2 separate regions of the Homo sapiens genome follow, and region 2 is linked to region 1. The links come from fine-mapping of genetic effects on gene expression. A gene starts in region 1. The other region holds a variant in brackets. All regions are shown on one strand. Distances are from middle to middle. Region 1 holds the start of MYOM2 (myomesin 2). Region 2 overlaps MYOM2 (myomesin 2).

Region 1 (10,817 bases):
GAAACACATTCTAGGAGAACATCTGGATGACTTTCTGTATGGCAATGACTTTTTAGATATAACACGAAAGGCACAATTGATGAAATAAGTAATTGATAAGCCAGACATCAATAAAATTAAATATATCTGCTCTACAAAAGACAAGATCAGGAGAATGGGAAGGCAAGCCACAGACTGGAAGAAAATACTTGCAAATATACATCTAATAAAGTACGGCTGCCCGCAGAACTCTTAAATCTCAACAATGAGAAAAGAAACAACCCAATGAAAAAAATGGGCAAAAGGCCTGGACAGACAACTCACCAAAGAATACACACCATTGGCAAATGGAGAGTCTCCCTCGTTTAACATGGCCCCACCTTTCTTGGGGGTCCTAAACCCCAACTCAAGAGCACCAGAAACCCACCAGCAGCTCTTCTTTGCTTTCTCACTACTTTTTGCCTTCTGCTCATGGAGTGCTTTGAGGTGAAACCTGGTGCTGAGATGTGGGCTCTGATCTTTGAGCCTCCCCTCTCTTCAGGATCTTGGCCTTTCAAATCCTGGATGCACTGTCAGGCCCAGACTCCAATTCTTATCTCTCCAGCTTCACAGTATTGCAGGAAGCTCTGCTGTTTCCCCCTGCTTCTCAACAGCGGCACTCTTTCCTCTTCCTTACCTTCAACCCAGCCACAAATCGGCAAGAGCCCAGAGATAGAAAGTGATGTGCAGAGAGAGTGCCCACTTCAGGAAGCACAATTCTCACTAGGACTGGGCCTCGAACCACTGGCTGCTCTCACAGCTCTCTTGTGTATCATCTGTCTGTCTGTGTATCCTGTCTATCTATCTATCACCTATTGATCTATTTCCATCACTGATCTATGTCTATCTTTCATCTCTATCATCACTCTATCACTTTATCATATATTATCTATTTACCTATCATCTATCTTTCTATCACTCTATCATCTATCTATTATCTATCATGTAACTCATATACCATCAATCTCTTTATCAATCAATCTATCTAACCTATCATCATCATCATCTGTCTGTCTATTCATCTGCCCATCAGCTTATATGTCCATTCACCTATCTGTTTTTCTCTCTTTCTTTCATTACTCTTTTGCCATCTCTCACACTCTGTATTTTATCTGGATTGTTACTTGTTCTGGGTAAGAATGTTGTCCTACTAGAAGCAACTTTATCACACATAAAAGTGAAAGTCTACTTCAGACATCTCATGTCTTATATATTACCCACTACATAGAGTTATAGTATTAAGACTTGCTGGTACTCTGAGACATAGTAAATGCTTGATAAATATTAATTTAAATGTATTTAAAAGTATATATATTTTAAAGTGTCTATATCTATATCTATCTATATCAATATCTATCTATCTTTCTATCTATCTATCTATCTATCTACCATATATATTTTTGAGCTGAGGTAAAGAATTACTAAATATAGCCTAGCTTTGTCAATTCTGTATATTTCTGTTTAGTTCTGAGCCACTATTAACTATTATACTTAACAATAGTAAGTTCTTCATGTCTCTTGAATCCATTCATTGGGCAGTTAGTTCAGAACTCCTTTATTAAGCACAGAGAATGTGCTAAGTTTGGAGAGAAGAAGCCCACACTTTGGTGGCTGCTGTGGCAAGAGTGTCTGGGGAAGAGTAAGATGGTGTAGTTGGGGAAATCTTTACTCAGAAATTGATGTGTAGTTATAATAATATTGGCCTCAAAAGAGATAGCAGGTAAACTTACTAAGGACTATAAAATAAAGTCAAAATTTTGCAGAAAAGAAAAAAAAAGCAAAGGAAACCTAAGCATTTATTTTCCTACTTTCCTGGAAAATGATTCAGAAATGCTGGAAACATTGGGAATTTGTGCGATTCATGTCGCTAAAGGGTTCCTCATTACTGAGCTGCTGCTTTCTGTGGACACGTGTTTAACTGACTTAATGAAATGTTAGAAGGAAGGCGCTTCCTCTGAATGTCAGCGACCTATTTCATCAATTAGTGGATTAAGCATGGCCTCAAAGAGACATCTATTGAACTTCTTGGAAATTAAGAAGGTGACAATTGTATTTCTCTAAACAAGGTTACTCTCACAATCAACATTTTCAGAAGGTTCACATTTAAACATTACAGTTAATTCATCTAAGTGGATGTGATTTTCTTGAGGTTTAAATTCTAAATACAGAACTGCACAACCATAAATAGGAACAAAGACATTCTAAAGGCAGAAAAAAGGAACAAGGTTGGGTATGGTGGCTCACGCTTGTAATCCCAGCACTTTGGGAGACCGAGATGGGTGGGTCACTTGAGGACAGGAGTTCGAGACCAGCCTGTTCACCAATATGGTGAAACCTTGTCTCTACTAAAAATACCAAAAATATATATATATATATATATATATATATATATATATATATATATATATATATATATCCGGGCCTGGTGGCACACACTTGTAATACCAGCTACTTGGGAGGCTGAGGTGGGAGGCTCACTTGAACCCAAGAGTCGGAGGTTACCACTGCACTCCAGCCTGGGCGACAGAGCCAGACGCCATCTCAATCAATCAGTCATCAGTCAATAAAAATAAAGAAAAAAACTCTTTTCTTTAAAGTGGGGCTGTTTTCTGAGATTCAGGTTTTCAGGATTTGGGAATGAGAGGCAGTGCTGATGGGGGCTGATGCCCTCAAGGGAGTTTTCTGCCTCCAGATTTTCCAGTCTCCCTTCTGCGGCCTGTGCACACGTGCTCTGTGGGGACCAGACGCCTTTGTTGTTGGCCTCATCACCCCCTGGTTTGGGAGAGCACGGAGGGTGACCCCCTGCCCCTCCCTGTGCTGTGGCTGCAACTGCGAAGCCTCTTTCTGGTGAGCTGTCATCCTTTGAATCATAAAACTGAATATTTGGCCTGTTGGATGGATAATTTCTAAAATACATGGGATGGATAATTTCTAAAATACATGGATAATTTCTAAAATAATTTCTAAAAAACAGAAAATTTGTTTTCTGAGACGGAATGCATGGAAGTGAACAAAATATCTTAAGAATAATTTTATTTCTTTCAAATATCCAAACTGATTTTCCTGAATCGAATGTCAGTTTTGGCTCTGTGCAATATAACAGGGGTCCTGAACCCCAGCCTCGGGGTCCGTGGCCGGTGAGGAGCTGGGCCGCATGGCGCGGTGAATGGCGGCCACTGAGTATTCTCGCCGGAGCTCCAGCTCCTCTCAGAGCCGCGGCCTTAGATTCTCACAGGAATACAAACCCTACTGTGACCTGCACACGCGAGGGATCTAGGCTGGACGCTCCTTATGAGAATCTTATGCCTGATGATCCGAGGTGGAGCAGTTTCATCCCAAAACTATCCCCCTCTCCACCGTTCTTGGAAAAATTGTCTTCCACGAAACCGGTCCTTGTTGCCAAAACAGTTGGGGATTGTTGCTGTATAGAACATAACTTCACCCATGAATGGTCTGGCCTGGGGTTCCACAGGATTGAAGGCACGTGGTTTTAGAATGTCACTCTTTGCATTTCGATCTTCTTTTCTATGTTGTGGGAAATCCTCAGTGAGGCCAACTGTTTTCCATTCACAGGCTGCCAATTTGAGCTGTGGAAATGAGATTGCTGGACTCTTCCTTTGTCTTAGTCAGGATTCTCTTGATGGCCGATGATAGAAAGTCAGCCCAAGGAACTCCGGCAAGAAGGAGCCTGTCTGCCCCAGAGCTGGTGTGTCTGGTGGAGAATGCGGGGCCCATGCCTGGTCCCACCGCCTCCCTCCGTCTTTTGTCCCTTCTTGGCTCCAGGCTTCCTGCAGGTGCACCTCACCCAGGGAGTTTTGGAAGCTACATCCCGGGTGGGCAGGGGCAGGCATGGCTCAGGGAGATGGGGGTCTACGAGGAGGGTGGGGAGGGGTCTCCTGTCCCCAGCAGAAGGCGAAGCTCTGTCCCCATCAGGAGCCTATCTGTGTCCCGGGTCACACTCTGCTCTCTGGGTGGTGTGGCTGAAAGATCCAGGCTTTCTTAGACGCAGCACTGGATTTCTATATCACAGAAGGAGGGCACAGCCACCGTGAAATGTCAGAAAAGGAGGAGGAGTGTGCTGGCCCTTCCTTCTCTCAGGAGAGGCCCCTCCCCGGGATGAGATTGTCCCCTCCTGAGATGCTAGGACTGGGACCCAGGCGACTGAGATGCCAGGACTGGGACTCAGAGGACTGAGATGCCACCTGAGGGGACGAGGCACCATCACTGCCCCTCCAGTGTCGGCCACACTCAGAGGCAGGGGGGCAGAAGGGCTGAAGGGAAGTCCCCCAGGTCCCTGAGAAATGGATTCGCTAGAGAAGGAGATGCTGATAAACCGGAAGTAAACATTGCTTGCTCTGGTCTTGCTGTTTGCAACCCCCCCAAAATATGTGGGTTAAAACCCTAACCCCCAAAACGATGGTGTGAGGAGGTGGGGCCTTAGGGAAGTGACAAGGTCATGGAGGTGGAACCTCCCGAGTGGGATCAGTATCCTCATACAGAGGCCCCAAGAGCGGCCTGGCCCCTTGACTTGGTGAGGACTCAGGGACCGCGCCGTCCCAGAACCAGAAGGCTCTCCCCAGGCAGTGTCTGCTGGTACCTGGATCTTGGACTTCCAGTCCCCAGAACTGTGGGAAAGAAGCTCCTGTGTTTTATAAGCTACACGGTCTATGGTGTTTTGCTAAAGCAGCCTGAATAGACTAAGAAATCACTCAACAAACACTAATTAAATTAAATGCTAGGCCATCAGAATACGAAGGGGAAGAAGACAGAAACACTCGCCTCCTGATCCAGCATCCAGAACGCTCTGGGGCCCAGCAAGAGGCTGTGCTCGCGTCTTTCTCGTATCTGATCTTCGCCTCCATCCACCTGCTCGCTGGTCCTTGGCTGTGCCTCTGATACCCCAGTGTGAGAACGTGGAGTTTCTTAAGGCAATTCTCTTATCATATTTTCTCTACTTGTCACAACAAACTTACAGGAAAGTTGTTATTCCATGCGTTTTAGAGCTGGGGAGCATAGCCCCCGTGGGCTGAGCAGCTGGCCGAAGTCCTCAGCCCCTGTGGTGAGGTGCAGCTGGAGTGTGATTCTCCGGGTCCTCAGATGGGGGCATCCCCTTGAGGCCCCGCCTCTTGGCCAGGCTGCAGCCCAGGACCGTGCCAGGTGTGTGTTATCTATATTTGGACACACGCTGTGCGAAACGACGGGCACCCTGCAATTATCCGTGTGGTGTAGACGCAGTGTACGTCTGTGGTAATGGCTATAAATAAGCCCCGACTTGCCGACTAGGCACCGCTCCTCTTTTGGGTAGGCAGTTCTTGCTAAAATAGCCCTAAGATACAATCGAGTGAAGACCTGAGTCGTTCTTGAAATAAAAAAAAAAAAACGAACAAACACACGAACATGCACACACACGCTCACAAACCCAGGGGCTTGTGCACCTCCCTCCCTCCACAGCCGACCTCAACTCGGGTGTCCAGGCCTGCGAATGGCACAAATGCTCACTGAAATCCATGTCATTATTAAAGACTCATTCAGGAGTTGCAATTTGTGAGCCAGGGAACCTGTAGCTCGAAAGGATTGAAGATATGTCTGAGAATTCACACGTAAGGATTAGAACTCATGGAGGAGAGTTGCGGGGAGGGAGCGTGGGAAGTCAGTGCCCTGCCCTCTCTTTCTGGGTCGGGGGCTGAAGTGTCACACCCGGTTTCCTGGGAAAAGTGCAGTTTGGGACTCAGAAAGGACACGTTCCAGTTTTGAATCGTGATTTCCCCCGCCCTCAGTTTGAACAAGAAGCTTTTCCTCCTGAGGTCAGGCTGGTGATTTACGATGTGGGTATTGATGTGGGGAGAGGCAGGCCCAGGCGTCTATATATAGTAGCTCCTCAGACCTTAAACGGGAGGGAGGCACAGGCGCTTGCTTTGCAGGAGTCAGCTCTGCCTTCCTCGGCTGGAGTGTGGGTGGCTTGGTGAGCCGGTGGTCAGGAATTCTCTCTCCTCCTTGCAATTTTCCTTTCTGTCTGGGTAAGTGTCTTTCTCTTCTTGCCTTTTCTAATTTGTGGCTTTAAGGGGAGGACCGGTAACTTCTGCACTCACATTTTCTAAGTACCTCTACTTCAGGGTCAAGAAGAGAGAGCCAGTGCACCCCGTCGCAGGCACCCTTTACTGTGGAAAACAGAGCAATTAGTTCTGGGATCTGTATTTCTTTGACGAGGTTTTATGCTCAACTAACATTTTATTTCCCACAGCCGTGGTCTTTGCTAAGTGCCGTTTAGCACCCTGCGGCGTGTGCTTTGGGTTTTAGCCCTGGTCTCATCGTGGCCCCAGGGGGCCCCCCAGTCAGTGGACTGATGTCTGCAAGTTTCATGAGATTCTCAGAAACGAAAGCCTCCCCCGAGGAGAGGGCTGACTTATAAAGGTGTGAAATAATAAAACTGGATATTTTCTTAAGGGAAAAAAGAGTCGAGGGTCATTCAGCTTAGACCTAGCCTATATTATCCACGGTATGGGAAAGAGAACAATCCTTGTCAGGACTTGCAAGTTTTTGCCCAAAAATGACAGCGTTCTTACGGCTGTTTTCTTCTTTGTGCTGTTGGGTGTGTTGTGACCCTTCAGACTTCTTCAGCTCCACTCCGCTGATAGAGGCTGTGCCTTCTCAGGGCGTGCTCTTGAAATGCAACCTGCTGGAGAAAGACAGTGGGGCTGGGTGGTTGCACGTGGAAGGCACCGGAGGCAAACGGAAGGAAGGGGTTTGCCATCACTGGGAACACCTGGCCTTTTCTAATTCTCCATTTCACATTCCTTTCTTACTAAGTAGAAGTAAAACAGGACTCAAAGAAAGCGTGGAACAAAGATAATTTAAGGCGTTATTTAATAAACCAAGTCCCAAGCTAAAACTTGTCTTGGGAGCCAAGGGCTTAGCCACTTGTGGCACAGGCCAACGCTGCGTGTCTGGGAGTCCCTTTCCCCTCTAGAAAGCTTTAATTTGGTGTATTTATTGACTTTGACATTTTTAACTGTACAAACAATTTCCTTCATTAAGTGGAAGTCAATGTTTTGTACTTCAAACATTTTTGCAAATTAAAACCCATCCTGGTGACATGAGGAATGGGCTCCACACGTTGTTTGCAGGAAGGAATTAGGATGGGGATATCAGACACGTGGTCCCCTGCACTGGAGGAGAGGCTCGCGTTTCATCCTGGTGTCATGATTCCTAAACGTGTCAGGAGCATTCCGGGAGTGGCCGGGGAGCTGGGCTGTGGTGGAAAGTGGGCTGGACGCTGTCAGGAGAGTCAGCTGGCGCCTGGGTTCGGCCGTGGCCCTACCGGTGACCCGGGCAAGTCATATTTCCCTGGGGACGGTCTGTGCTAACAGTACAGCGTGGCGCCAGGATTATCTACACACAGGCTGTCCAAGCTGGGGGACTGTTAGCTGCCACCTCACTCAGCCCCCTGTTTTACAGCAGAGCAGGTGGAGGCCCCTGAGCTGAAGGTCAGCAGGTCCCCACTGGAGTCTCAGCCTCCCAATGCGCCTGAGCCCCAGGGACTCACATCAAAAACTACCCTGCGAGGAAAAGCTGCTTTCTTTCTCTCTCTCTTTCTTTTTTCTTTTTTTTTTTTTTGGTTGGTGTGTGTAGGGGGTATTTAACACATGTCTGAGATAGTTCCTTAAAAAGGAAAACAGCTTTCTATGTAGACAGTAGAGGGACATTGGGGAGCTGATCGGCCCAGGTCCTGTCATTTTCTTTATAGTGTCATAAATAGTACAGGTTGATCATTCCAAATCTGAAGATCAGAAATCCAGAATGCTCTAAATTCTGAAACTTTGTGAGCGCTGGTATGACTCTCAAAGGAAATGCTTACATGAGCATCTCAAGTATCCAATTTCTGGATTTGAGTTGCTCAACCAGTAAGTATAAATGCAAGTATTCCACAGTCTGAAAAACAAATCGGGAATTGGAAACTCTTCTGGTCCAAGCATTTTGGATAAGGGATGCTCCACCTGTAGGGTGCATTTGGCAAGTCCTCTCCAGGGTTCCCTCCACTCAGAAGGGCCCTGTGCTGCCAGGGCTGCAGGCACCCAGCACGTGCTGAGTCAGTGGGGATTTGCTTGCAAAGACGTCATCACACCCGGCCAGGAGGTGGTGGCCCAGGCTGGGTGAGGGACACTGGGGAAGTTCTAACATAGGAAGTCCCCCAAGGAGTGAAGAGATTGCGGAGGGGACACACATTCAGGGTGGGTGAGGCTGGACGTGCAGTCCTGCTGGTTTTCTGGGTTGGGCATGTGATTGATAAAAGTGGAGTTGAGGGCACATTGGCACTGGGAGTCAAATGCGCAGAAGACTTGAGCTTGCTACTCTCCCGAGCCAGGAGCTCTAAGGTGTTTTCATTGTTGAAATCCAAGGGTTCTGATTTAGGCTTGGCTGGCACGTTGCAAGTGACCCCATACTTGTGGAATCAACTGAGGCTGATGGATTCTGCAAAGCCTCTGACACCTCCTGATTTTGGTGGTCCTGAGCATGAAGTGAGCAGGGAATACATGTGGGGATAAACGTGGCAAAGTGCCCTGTTACCCCCATCCAAAGACTTCCCGGGGAGACTTCCACAGTAAGGTACCATTGGAGTGAGGATTGCAGGAAGTGTGCACACGTGATCCCAGCTCTGCCTTGCTAAGCACTACAAAGTGTAGCCCCTCACACATGAAGTGTTTGAAGACTTCCAGGCCCACAGGACCGGATGTCACGTCAGTGATACATAGGTTGCATTGGACAGGACGTTACAGACTGGTTGAAGGATAGCTAGTCTGTGAGCTCTCAAGACCTGAGCCGTTTCACATTCTTCCAGGTCTTAGGTCTAAGGAGGAGGATTTCCATCCAGGGCGATTCTCCTCTTATTTCAATGTAGCTCATTCTCTCCTTTGACCTAATAGGTCACATTTTGACTCTTCCCTTTACCAAGAAATACAAACACATCTGAGGTTTAACTCAACATAAGTGTAAGTAGATACTGTGATGACACATGAGCCCCTGCTGCAATAGCAGGTACTGGGGATTGCTCATGCGTCTGCTGGAGTGGAATTGCCTGGTATTCGTCAGGCTGATCCCAGAAGAACCTTGGATAGGAAACCGGATGGAAGCTGAAACGTCTTCCCCAACCTTGGTCCAACTTCATTTCAGTGAGCTCTTCCCAGCACCCTGCTGGTGAACTCCAGAGAGAGTAAATGGGTTTCTGAGCAGGAAGCGTTTCTTGAAGATCCACCTTGATTAACTCATTGGAAAATCCCAGTGAGCTGCATCTGGGGAGATTTCAAATAGTGAAGCAATACATAGATTTTCTCAGATACCTTTTCCTGTCTGCAGAATTCTTGAACCATGATAACAGCAGCAGCATAACAGAGACAGCAACCGATTTCGGTACCAGGGCCAGGGCCAGGCATGATGCAGATTCAATATGGAACGCCAGAGCTAGAGGAGCTAGAAGCTACCCCAGGCCTCATCAGAATGCTGGAGTCAGAATTCGATCCCAGGTCTACCAGACATCAAAACCTGGGCGCTTGACCTCTGCACTATGATACTGCCTTCAATATCAGGGCGGGTGGAGGAGATATGCTTTTATTTATTTATTTATTTATTTTATTTTTTATTTTTATTTTATTTTTTTTTTTGAGATGGAGTCTCGCTCTGTCACCCAGGCTGGAATGCAGTGGCGCGATCTCGGCTCACTGCAAGCTCCGCCTCCCAGGTTCACGCCATTCTCCTGCCTCAGCCTCCCGAGTAGCTGGGACTACAGGGGACCCCCACCATTCTGGCTAATTTTTTGTATTTTTTTTAGTAGAGACGGGGTTTCACCATCTTAGCCAGGGTAGTCTCAATCTCCTGACCTCGTGATCCACCCGCCTTGGCCTCCCAAAGTGCTGGGTTTACAGGTGTGAGCTACTGCGCCCGGCTGCTTTTATTGTGTTCTATGAGGTGCAACGTTCCGTTATATCCCTGGAGTAGAATGCATGCTGGTGCACTCTAAAACACGGCTGGGCCCTCCCAGGGTGGGGTGGTTGGTCGACTAGTTGGGTTTTAAGAGGCAATATTGAGAGAGTTAGTGTGGCAGTGTGAAAGGCCCAGAATAAGGATGGCCTTGGGGCAGGGGTAGCCTCTTCTACATGCTTTTGGGGAAGAATTTCTCCTTTCTGGCCCTCGTGTCCTGTTTTCTTCCCTGTAGAATAGGAGTTTGGGTAATCGCTAGTGATCTTTCCAAGTTCTACAATACTGTGATTCTCGGAGATTACAGAGTTCAAAGGAAACAGCTCATAAGGAGCAATTTATGTACTGTGGTAGGTTTTCTAGCACGTACCCTGGAGATCTGAACTATGACAAATTCATCTCCGAGCAGCCCTTGGCATTTTCCACCCAAGTCTCATACCCATGGCCCGGGATGTGGGTGGCACCCCTGGGGCTGTGCCATGGGGCCTGGCCTAGGAGTTCTGTCTTTAAATAAGGACAGATCCTCGTCATTTAAACAGAAAAGTAAAAAATGGAGCTCAGGTTGTGAGTCCTTTTGCACCTTGTTTGGGAAATTAATGACTGCAGAGATTTAGGAATACGGTCCCTACGTAACTTTGCCGTGATGATCAAGTCACTCAGCACGTTGGCATTTTACGTGTTTTGGGTGAACATGTACAGCAGATTGCCATGTCTAATACCTGTAATGCTGCAAGTTCCCAGAGAAAAAGATGGAACTCGCTCATCTCCTGTTTGGGGAGAATTTCATCCACACTCTCGAATTTCCCCACATCCCTGAGGCTTTCATGCCA
Region 2 (10,817 bases), 97 kb after region 1:
GCAGTGGGGCCCTTATCTCCACTGCTGCCCAGCCGGTGTGTCCAATTACACCAAAGTCAGGAGGCCGGTGGGACACATTTACAGCTATTTTATGAATGATCGCGTGAAGGTGTACCTTTTTCCCTTGTCACCTATATCAAAATAAAATTATGTTTCTTTTTCTGTAAGCAAGTTGCTAATTGTGTGAGTAGAATGGATCACCACTGGAATGGAACGTAGTCCAGCAGAACATAAACGCCGCAAAGGCTAAAACGCTGCCACTTCATGAAGCATTTGCAGCGCAACTTTCGTGGCCCAGTGAATTTCACCTGTTGGACAAAGCTGTGGCTGATACGGTGGAAACTCCACTAGCTTTTCTTCATGGCTCTAAGTCTAAACAGTGAGATTTTGGGGCTGTTTGCAATTTTACCCCACGGAAGAATTTCTAGTCTCTCTCTCTTTCTCACACACACACATATACACACACAGAGCAGAGGTTTGAACATCTTCGTCTATACATCTAGGATGCAATAGTTTTGGCACATAATTTAGCTCTTTGAAGAAGACACATTTGAGTTAATGGTGATCAAGAAAACATTGTCTTCTCCCTAACACCCACGTGATGTGTGGGAGGATGAGCTCACACAGGGTGATGAGCTCACACAGGGTGGCAGCGATTGTTGCGTCCTCTTGGTGAGACTGACCAGCGACAGCACGAACAGAGCATTTCGTGCAGGATGCAAGACACCAGGCATGACAAAAATCGTCCCCTTCTTCGCAAGCGGGGAGCTCATCACAAATCCCCAAGCAGTATCCAGGCTTTGCAGGGCAGGGAAGCAGGGTGGGGCCAGGCAGGACTGAGGGCCTTACTGATGTGTGGAGGTTCAGGCTGGAATCCTGTCCCACGGGTCTGTGTGTGTGCAGGAAGCACACATAGCCAAGTTGGCTGTGCCTGGTTGTGTGTGTGTGTGTGTGCATTTGTTTGAACTTTGACCCTCATCAGTTCCAACAAGAGAGGGTGACAAGATGACTAAGGCCTATCAGTGTTGGCAAAACAAGTTTTTCTGACTCTCAACAGAAGAGTTCCACATGCTTGTGGAACCCTGTTTCCTTGGATGGGGTACATTTAGTCAATAAACGATTACAGTGGGCCCAGTTCCCCACTGATCTGCAATTTCTGATTTGCTGATTGGTCTGTAAAGTGTCCAGTTGTAAGTGCATCCAGGGGGATAAAGAAGTCTTTCTTAATCAAGCTGTGATGTCCCTACAGTGTGTCAGTGTCTCTTTGCCTTCAGGTCTCTGCACAGACGGGCTTCTTGCTGCTCCTCACACGCCACGGTTTGGGATTGAGTGGCTAATCCACTGCCTGGTATATGTTCTGTGCAAGGTTTTTCTTTTCTGCAGAGCTGAGAATCACCATGTAAAGTCTAATTTTCCTTTTATACACAGGGATGAGTAGGTCTGAGTGCTGCAATGGCCCATCAATCCCTTTAGTAATAGCGACCTGCTGTGAGCTCACAGGACGGCTGGTGTGGCCACTGATGCTCACCTGCCCTCAGACACACCACGGATGGAGACTCTGGCAAGTCCGTGTTGCCTTTAATGTAAGCGCCAGCCTGCAGCTTGCAAACATGGCACTCTCGGCCCGGCCGGCTCTGGCTGCTGAGTGCTGGGGCCTGGGGTCATGGCCTCATCGCTTCTGCTTCCCTCTCCTGCTCCCCAGGCAGCCCATGCTGACTGTGGACTGAGAGCAGCTGGGCGGAGCCTGGGGCTCTGCTGCGGGGTCAGCCTTCGTGAGGCTCCCAGGTCAGCAACGTATAGAATTCCAGATGCGGGACTGAGAGATTCCTGAAGGATTGCCTGGTCCGATTCTCCCGCCTCTTTCCGGGGAGGGGCAGATTATGGGAAAAGGGAGCTAATTAACATATTGTGAAGGGCTAAAGGGGTCACTTTTACATTATGTGCATTCTAACACAGTTTTTAAAAGTTTAGATAGAACCAAAGTGCTCACACTGCCCTGCCTTCTAAGGCGGCACGAACTCGCTCCCACATCGGCAACAGGTGAGGCCAACCTGATTATTGTAGACAAATGTGTGTCAGTTATGTTCCAAAGTCGCTTCAGTAGATGTTGAGCATGTCTTCTTGGATTCTAAAACAACCGCACATGGGCAGTGTTAGATCCTCCCTTCTCTGTCCGGGATCCCAGAGGCTAAGTCTCAGGGTGAAGCCAATCCCACAAAACCATCCCTGGGAACAGCCATTTCGGCCTCTCTGGCTTAGTGTGCGCCAGGATCCCACTGTGCCTTCACAGAACTCCCACTTTCTATCCGGACAGACTCAGTTCCGACACACACTGCCAGCACCACCACCAGAGACCCGACACACACTGCCAGCACCACCACCAGAGACCCGACACACACTGCCAGCACCACCACCAGAGACCCGACACACACTGCCAGCACCACCACCAGAGACCCGACACACACTGCCAGCACCACCACCAGAGACCGGGACGCAGAGCCAAGCATTTATTTTTACATATATACTTTTTGAGACAGTGTCTCGCTCTGTTGGCCAGGCCGGAGTGCGGTGGTGTGATCACAGCTCACTGCAGCCTTGACCTCCTCGGGCTCAGGCAGTCCTCCTGCTTCAGCCTCCTGAGTAGCTGAGACTACAGGTGCTTGCCACCACACCCGGCTAATTTTTTTATTTTTGTTGAGACAGGGTCTTGCTTTGTTTTCCAGGCTGGTCTCCAACTCCTGGGCTCATGTGTTCCTCTTGCCTTCGCTTCCCAAAGTGCTGGGGTTACAGGTGTGAGCCACCACACCCGGCCTGAGCTGTGCATTTATTATGGGCTTAACATATATTTGTTGAAGGAAAGAATAACAGAGAAAAAGGCTATGATGGTGAGGAGGGCTGGAGAATTCCCTTTCCCGATGGAACATAGGCATTCTTGGTTGCCGGCAAGGGTAAGGAAAGATGCCACAAGCACCACAGCTGGCTCTCTGTGCAACTGACCCAGCCTGCTTCCCCAAGCTGCGGCTGTTCTGGAGCTGGTGCCCGAGAGAAACAGGTCCACATTCCAGCTCTTGGGTGGCCCTGGAGTCCGTCCTGTTTTCATGCACCTGTGACTATGACTTCCACAGATCTCTCAGGCTCCCTCTAAACTGAAGTAATGTTAGGAAATAACTTATACACTTTTGTCTGCAGTAAACAGTTTGGCCTTATATGTTGCAGATGTGGAACCTTAGAAGGCGGGAATGTATGAGCACCTTGTTTTTATCTAAACTTTAAAATATTGTAGCATAATACACATAATGTAAAAGTGAGCATTTTAACCACCTTTAAGGGTACTGTTCAGTGGTGTTAAGTACATTCACATCATCGTGCAGGCACCACCACCACCCAGGACCTTTTCATCCTCCCACCCGAAACTCTGTTCCCATTAAACCCTCAGTCCCCATTCCCCTCCCCCAGCCCCTGGTACCCACAGTTCTACTTCCTGTCTCTGTGAATCTGACTACCCTAAGCCCTTCATAGGAGTACATATTTGTCTCTTTGTGACAGGCTTATTTTACTCAGCAAAATGTCCTCAGGGTTCATGCACATTGCAGGAGGTGTTGGGATTTCCCTCATGTATTTATGGACCACATTCTACTGATCCATTCATCACCAATGGACGCTTGGGCTGCCTCCCCACCGGGGCGGTCGTGAACGATACTACGAAGGATGTAGGTGTGACAATATCTCTCCAAGACCCCGTGTCCAATTCTTCGGATCTACACAAGTAATTGCTGGATCATGTAGTAGTTCTAGCTTTAATTTTTTGAGGAACTACCATACTATATAGAGTAATGTTAAGTCCATTATGTCGTGACAAGTATATATTACATAATAATATACCTTTAAAAATTAAGTATCATTTAATTTTAGAAAGTTTTCAGATCTGAGTTACTGATGTGGTCAATACATTCGTAACAGCCAGAATAATCTATTGTGACATTGGCATCAGCAGCTTAGAGAAGGCTGTCACAGCAACGGGACATTGCCCTGTAGACATTGTGCGTGTGACATGGAGACCCTAACTCAGATACGTTCCTGTTGCTCTTTTCAAGAGATGCTAAGATCTCATCCAGTGAGCATATGAGAATCGGGGGGAGTGAAGAGATGGCTTGGCTGCAGATATGTGAGCCGACTGAGAAGGATAAAGGAAAATACACTTTTGAGATTTTCGATGGCAAAGACAACCATCAACGCTCCCTTGACCTGTCCGGACAAGGTAAGAGAATTCTTCTTTAGCATTTAATAATTT[C/T]CTATTTAGAAATCCATTTAGATGCTGAAGGGAGGGAATACAATATGAATACAAGAGACAATATGAATTTACAATTTTCATTTAGAGAAAATGAAAAAATAAATTTATTCTTTTTTTATATATCAGTTTTCATGAACCAGATTCACTGGTATAATATTTGAGTGAATAAATAAAATCTGAACACTGAAATGGTTAGTAACGTATGAACTATTTCCTCACAGCTTTTGATGAAGCATTTGCAGAATTCCAGCAATTCAAGTAAGATTTGTGTATTTAGTTACTATGATATCCTGTGGGCAGTTGAGTCCCAGTCGTTTTGGCTGCATGTGGGAATCTGTATGGAAGCCTGGGTGACCTAAAGAAAGAGCCATTCCTGGGACAGAAGTGGGAATTTAAGCAATGCAGTATATGGAGGGGTGGGCATTCTCCTAAACCAGAAATGCATTTATAAACGGACTGTCCAGAGTCATCGGAACCCCGGATGAATTTCGGAAATCATTATTGTGAGAGTTGAAGAAAGAGAAAAGAAACACGCAAAGCAGATTAACAGTCAAAGACAGGTTTATTTTGGAGAATAAACCTGAGTGGGGCTTTTGGCCGATTTCGGTCAGGAGCGCTTTCTTTTACAGACTAAGGGTATTTAAGGGTTCTGGCTCAGGCTAGGAAGGTTTCTGTGTGGAGGAGAGTTTTATTGTGAGGTTGGAATACCTCTGGTTGGAGGGGAGCTTATCTCAGGGTTGGAATGTTTTTGATTGGAGGGCAGGTTATGCCAGGGTTGGTATGTTTCTGGTCGGAGGTGTCATTTGTGGTTTATGGCCATGCTGACATTAGCCCTTAAGCTGATGTTTTTGGGCTGGACTTAGGCGGTTTCTAATCAAGGAAGACTTAAAATGGCGATGCTAGTCCAAGATGGCGGTGCTGCTGCTCTGCCAGTCATCATCAGGGCAGCACATCACACACAGCAACTTTTTAAGGACAATTCGGGGTTTTCAAATGCACCATCGAGTCTTCGCACATCCGAAGCTGACCGCAGTCCTTGGCCCATGCTAGCTTATTTAATGAACATTTGTTGACTGGGTGCAGGGATGAGCAAGATAGATCAGAAACTGACAAATTCCGAAAATATCTCAAGTCTCCAGTGCAATCTAGTGAATTTGTGAAAAAAAAAAAAATCTCTTCAACCTGTGAGCTGGAATGCTAAACTTTTCTGTGGGTTTTAGCATCTGGATAATAGGGCATTTTCCACCTCAAAATGGGCAGTGGGAACCATCAGGAAAAATCAGTGATATCCATCCTGGGGTCCTGTGACCCGAACATGTTCTTCTAAGAGAATGCAAACGTATCTCCTTCTTCTTTTGCTTCATCGCTAGTGAGCCTCTCAGCTGTGCATTTTGTTGGAAGCATTTTCTCATACTCTCTTTTCATTCTCTCCTTTCTGTCCCCTTTAACTTTTAGAGCTGCTGCTTTTGCAGAGAAGAGTAAGTACCTGTTGGATTGTAACCAGGATGGTGAATTATTTGGGGTGGGGCAAAAGTGTCCATATTTTGGAGGACCAACTTTGTGTATTAAATAATAACCAGCAATCCCCCACCCTGATGTAACAACGCCACCAACACCACACCCTGTCCTGGAGCCCCATGTCCTGCACCACTGATCCTTGCACTGCTTTCGGCCTTAGCCCCGTCACCCCTTGGACACCCTCCCTCCCTCCTCCCTTGCAGAACCTGCAGCCCAGACACCCAGGGCCACTTCACTTTCTTTCCCTCCCTTCCTCCCTCCCCTCCCCTTCCCTCCCTCCCTCCCTCCCTCCCTTCCTCCCTTCCTCCCCTCCCTCCCTTTATTCTTTTTTTTTTTTTGACAGAGTCTTGCTCTGTCACCCAGGCTGGAGTGCAATGGCATGATCTCGGCCCATTGCAACCTCTGCCTCCTGGGTTCAAGCGATTCTCCTGCCTCAACTTCCCGAGTAGCTGGGATTACAGGCACCCGCCATCATGCCCGGCTAATTTTTGTATTTTTAGTAGAGACAGGGTTTCATCATGTTGGCCAGGCTGGTCTCTAACTCCTGACCTCAGATGATCTGCCCGCCTTGGCCTCCCAAAGTGTTGGGATTACAGGCGTGAGCCACTGCGCCTGGCCAGGACCCCGTCACTTTCTGCCCAACTCAGGGACACACGCGGCTCTCCAGGCCTTCCGTCCTCGGTGAATTCTTCACCCTTCAAGCCCAGTTCCCATCTCACATTTCCTCTGGAGTGTTTCTCCCCCAACCCCTTCACAGAGTCTGTTATCTCCTCATCTACCTTCCCTTGGCTTTGGTTTATCCCTCAACTGTAAACATATAAACCTTTTTCTTTGATGCTCGCTCTCTCCTGAGCATAAACTCCTCACCACATTCACCTTGGTACCCACTGCTGCTTACATGGCTCCTGCTCCGTGGGAACGTCCCGCAGATGTTTTCCTAACCAAGGTGCTTTCCCGTTGCAGATCGTGGCAGGTTGATCGGCGGCTTGCCTGACGTGGTGACCATCATGGAAGGGAAGGTGAGGATTCTAAACTCGGCCGGGGTGGGGGTGTCAGCACGGTGCGATGGACGCAACCCCTTCTCTTGGGGCGGAGCAGAGGGAACCCAGTGAGGGGCTTCTGTGTCCTCACTCAGCCTGCAGGGAACCCAGAGTCCCCCCCACTTTTCTGCCCCTCCTAGACGGCTTGGAATAGCCCCTGTATTCTCAAAGGAAGGAATCACATAACATTCCGAATCCACAAACCTGTGTTCAGAGGAACACGTTGTGCCACTCAGGCACCTCAAGGCAAGTGCTGTGGCTTTGGGTGTTTCTATGCCCCTGTGGCCATTCACCCAGAGGAGCAACTGCAGGATGAGGCAGCCACACTCGCCCTGACCTACCTGCGTGTGTGAAGGTGCAAGCCCCCTGCTTCCAGTGTGAAACAGCACAGCTTTTACAACACGAAGGAAAAAAAAATCTCTGCTCCTATTCTCAAGGTCATTGTGGAACACATCGTGGAAGCCACTTATTGGAGTTTAATTTGTTGCCTGTCGGGAGAATTATTGATATCTAATTGATAGCTGTCTGGTTGCTTCAGTGGGTCTAACTCAATGTCACAGGGACAGAGATACTTGAGAAAATTTTATTAGCCCAAAAGACAAAAATTTATAGACGTCTTCTTTAGTAGCTAATGGAAGCCTAGAGAGCTCTTGAGATCTCATCTTAAGGATGTAATTGAGAAATTAGCAATCGTTTTACTTTATCCTAGGCTGAAAGCATGTTTTAACTAAGCTTCAAGAATGCATTTTTTTGCCTCCAATTTACCAGTTATAAAACGATATATTCAATGGGTTTGCCAGAGGAACTGGTAAGAGGGATCCATAACTCTAAATAGAAAGGAAATTTGGGAGCAGACTGGATATATCTACTATAAAACATAGAGCTTAATTAAATTACTTTCAAATTCTTTAATTGACTTAGGCTATGGATAAAAGCTAAGAATAAATAGGACACATGCTCACTGATTTTTTTACGAGCTCGCCTGTGAAGTGGTGAACCTGTTCCCTGCTGTCCTCTGCCTGCTCTGTCCAGAGCGGCGCTCATGTACATAAAGGCTTGTTTCTAAACAAACGATTGAAGGACCAATAAATGTAACTGAGTGTGACCTGGAGCCCACCGTCCGAGGGGGTGACATGACTTTCCTTTTTCTAACTCTTCCTTCTCCACCAACCTCTTCCGTCCAAAGACCTTGAATCTGACCTGCACGGTGTTTGGAAACCCTGACCCCGAAGTGATTTGGTTCAAGAACGACCAGGACATCCAGCTCAGCGAGCACTTCTCGGTGAAGGTGGAGCAGGCCAAGTACGTCAGCATGACCATCAAAGGCGTGACCTCCGAGGACTCGGGCAAGTACAGCATCAACATCAAGAATAAGTATGGCGGGGAGAAGATCGACGTGACAGTGAGCGTGTACAAACACGGGGAGAAGATCCCGGACATGGCCCCGCCCCAGCAAGCCAAGCCCAAGCTCATCCCCGCGTCTGCCTCAGCGGCAGGCCAGTGAAGGCGTTTTCCTAGCCTGGAGATGGGAAAATATGCTTGGCAGAGACAGGAATGCTGTGTGCTTGTTCCAAATGAGCAGCTGGCATCCGAGTGGTGTCCTGTGTGGGCTGATAGTTGATCACACATTGTGCTTTTGATTTTTGCATTTGGTGATGAATATTTTATACCCGTCTAAGGGAGAAAGCTAATGTTTTCCACAAGACTGAACAACGTGTATTTACACGAGGGTAGACGGCAGATGCCTGACAGAGAGTGGGTTGGCAGACAACACACTAGAATTTTCACGGGTGTGGGCACATGGGTGTGGCACCTGGACGTGTGCAGCATGTGGCGGTCTGTGTGAAGCCACCGTGCTTCTCTTTGGGGGGCCGCGAGATCTAGCATCTCTGAAATCCTGGCTGTCGAGGCTTTGAAGCATGTGTTACCTGGTTAAGCTTGTTTTCTCTTGCTTTAGGCAAATAAAAGTTTAAAAATCACCTTGTTGTGGTTTTCCTGTACCAAATCACACCTACCTGCCCCTGCTCACCCCCTGGCTTGTTTAATTATGGGTTATCATGCACTTTCACGGCTGGTGGGGTGCAGATAGTGCACTCACCCTCCAGAGAGCAGGGCATGGTGAATCACACCCCCAAAGCCCCTCCGACCCACGGGGCTGGGCTGCTGGCCCCCAGCGGCACCCAAGACGGCACCAGTCCTAAGAAGTGTGCGTTTTGTGCAAGGCTTAGAAAGGCCACCTAGTGATTATACCACGGATCTAAAAGTCTCTGTAGAGGAAAATGAAATGCAAAGATGGCTCTGTTCTTTTTTAGTGTGCTAATGAATTAGGAAGGGATTTCAAAAGAAAGAAGGCACTCATTCAGAATGATCACTGCAGTAGCCATGGAGGAAAAATAAAAACTTGGCTGCCTACACAAGGCCTCTTGGTGAAGTTAAAAAACGTGTTTAGGAGGAACATACCCTCTCTTTGAACTTTTTCCTCCTTTGTTTGGAAAGAGGCTGAAATTCTTCTGGCATAAAAATCCCATTTCAATATTTTAGTTTTATTGTTGCTTTATAACAGAAAAAGCTTTGATAATTAAGAATGTTTTACCTTTCTGTGTCATTAAGGGCAATCCAAATTTTACGAGAATTTGTTATATTTTTCTAAGGTAATAATACAAATCCTGAGAATTAAATATGTCCCCAGTAACATAAAGCTGGCTGAGCTGGTTTCCATGGCAGTAAAGTGAGTATCAGCAAGAATTTTATTTTTGTTATTTCTCCCTTTTCTGTCGTGCAGATGAACTTGAGCGGAGTTTGTTCTTATTGCGTGGTGGCAGCCGCGTTTTCCAAAGCGTGCTTGGCAAGGGTAGGCGCAGACAGTCTCAGTTTGACCTTGATTTAGTTAAACAGATTTTGTTTATTTTCCAGTTTAAACAGTCATTTTTGTTTAGCAATCGTGGTTCATGGGAAATAATTCAAATGGTTGTGAATTTCTTGAAGCCATATATACTATTTTTAATAGACCTCCTTTTTGAGCAGTTTTAGGTTCACAGCAAAGTTAAAAGGAAGGTAGAGATCTCCACTCCAACCCCTACCCCCACCACAGCTTCCCCCGCTACCAACACCTCCCACCAGAGGGATGTGCTTGTTACAACCGCTGCACCCACACTGACACGTCACCATCCTCGCAGGCTGGAGTTTACCCTGGGCTCGCTTCTGGCGCTTGTTACAACTGCTGCACCCACACTGAAGCGTCAGCATTGCCGGGGGCTGGAGTTTACCCTGGGCACACTCCTGGTGCTGTTGGCTCTGTGGGTTTGGTCGGGTGATCAGGACTCAGGTCCACCATTGTAGCATCATGCACAGTCTTTTCTCTGCCCTAAAAATCTTCCCTTCAACCACTGAGCATTTTACTGCCTCCATAGTTTTGAGTTATAATATTTTTTAAAAGACTTTTTTTTTAAAAGAATGAAATAGTCTTAGACATGCAGTAAAGTGTCTTTACAACGGCGCAGAGAGCCCAGTGGACTCCACAGTCTTCCTGTTGTTCACGTCTCGCGTTGCTGTGGGGCGAGACGATGGCCTCACCTCCGGGTGGCCTTCAGACCTCGCTGGGTTCCCCCAGTGCCCTCTCTCTGTCCCAGGACCCATCGAGGACACCAGATGAATTTGCTGTTCACGTCTCCCAGCCCCTCCGTCCTGCGATGGTTTCTGTCTGTCCTTGCCTTTCATGACCTTAGTGGCTTTGAGGAGTTTTGCTGGTTATCTTGTAGGATGTTCCCCAATCCAGGTCCCCAGTCCAGGGAAGACGATCTTCGTGTGATGAGACTGGGGATGTGTGCTTTTGGGAAGAGGAGTCATGTGGGGTGCCCGACATCCGCTAACCTTCATCACTTGCTCAGGTGATGTCTGCCTGCTGTCTCCCATGAAATGCCTGCTTTTTCCTCTTCTCCTTCTATTCCTTGGGAGCCTGTCTCAGCCCA

What was found. PIP is the estimated chance that this variant, and not a neighbour inherited with it, causes the effect.
Region 2: its variant is fine-mapped to the expression of MYOM2 in whole blood (TOPMed, PIP 0.97).

Annotation. Positions count from the first base shown.
Region 1 is chr8:2,039,134-2,049,950 of GRCh38, forward strand. It overlaps MYOM2 (myomesin 2), which reads left to right and starts at 5,913. Exons shown (of 37, transcript NM_003970.4): 1 at 5,913-6,035.
Region 2 is chr8:2,136,629-2,147,445 of GRCh38, forward strand. It overlaps MYOM2 (myomesin 2), which reads left to right. Exons shown (of 37, transcript NM_003970.4): 33 at 4,095-4,258; 34 at 4,513-4,549; 35 at 5,747-5,769; 36 at 6,773-6,828; 37 at 8,036-8,828. The coding sequence ends at 8,353. Among named protein-coding and RNA genes, the nearest start is that of MIR7160, 65 kb to the left of the region's middle. RefSeq lists enhancers at 1-181, 1,169-1,669. The variant C/T (reference allele first, on the strand shown) is at 4,292.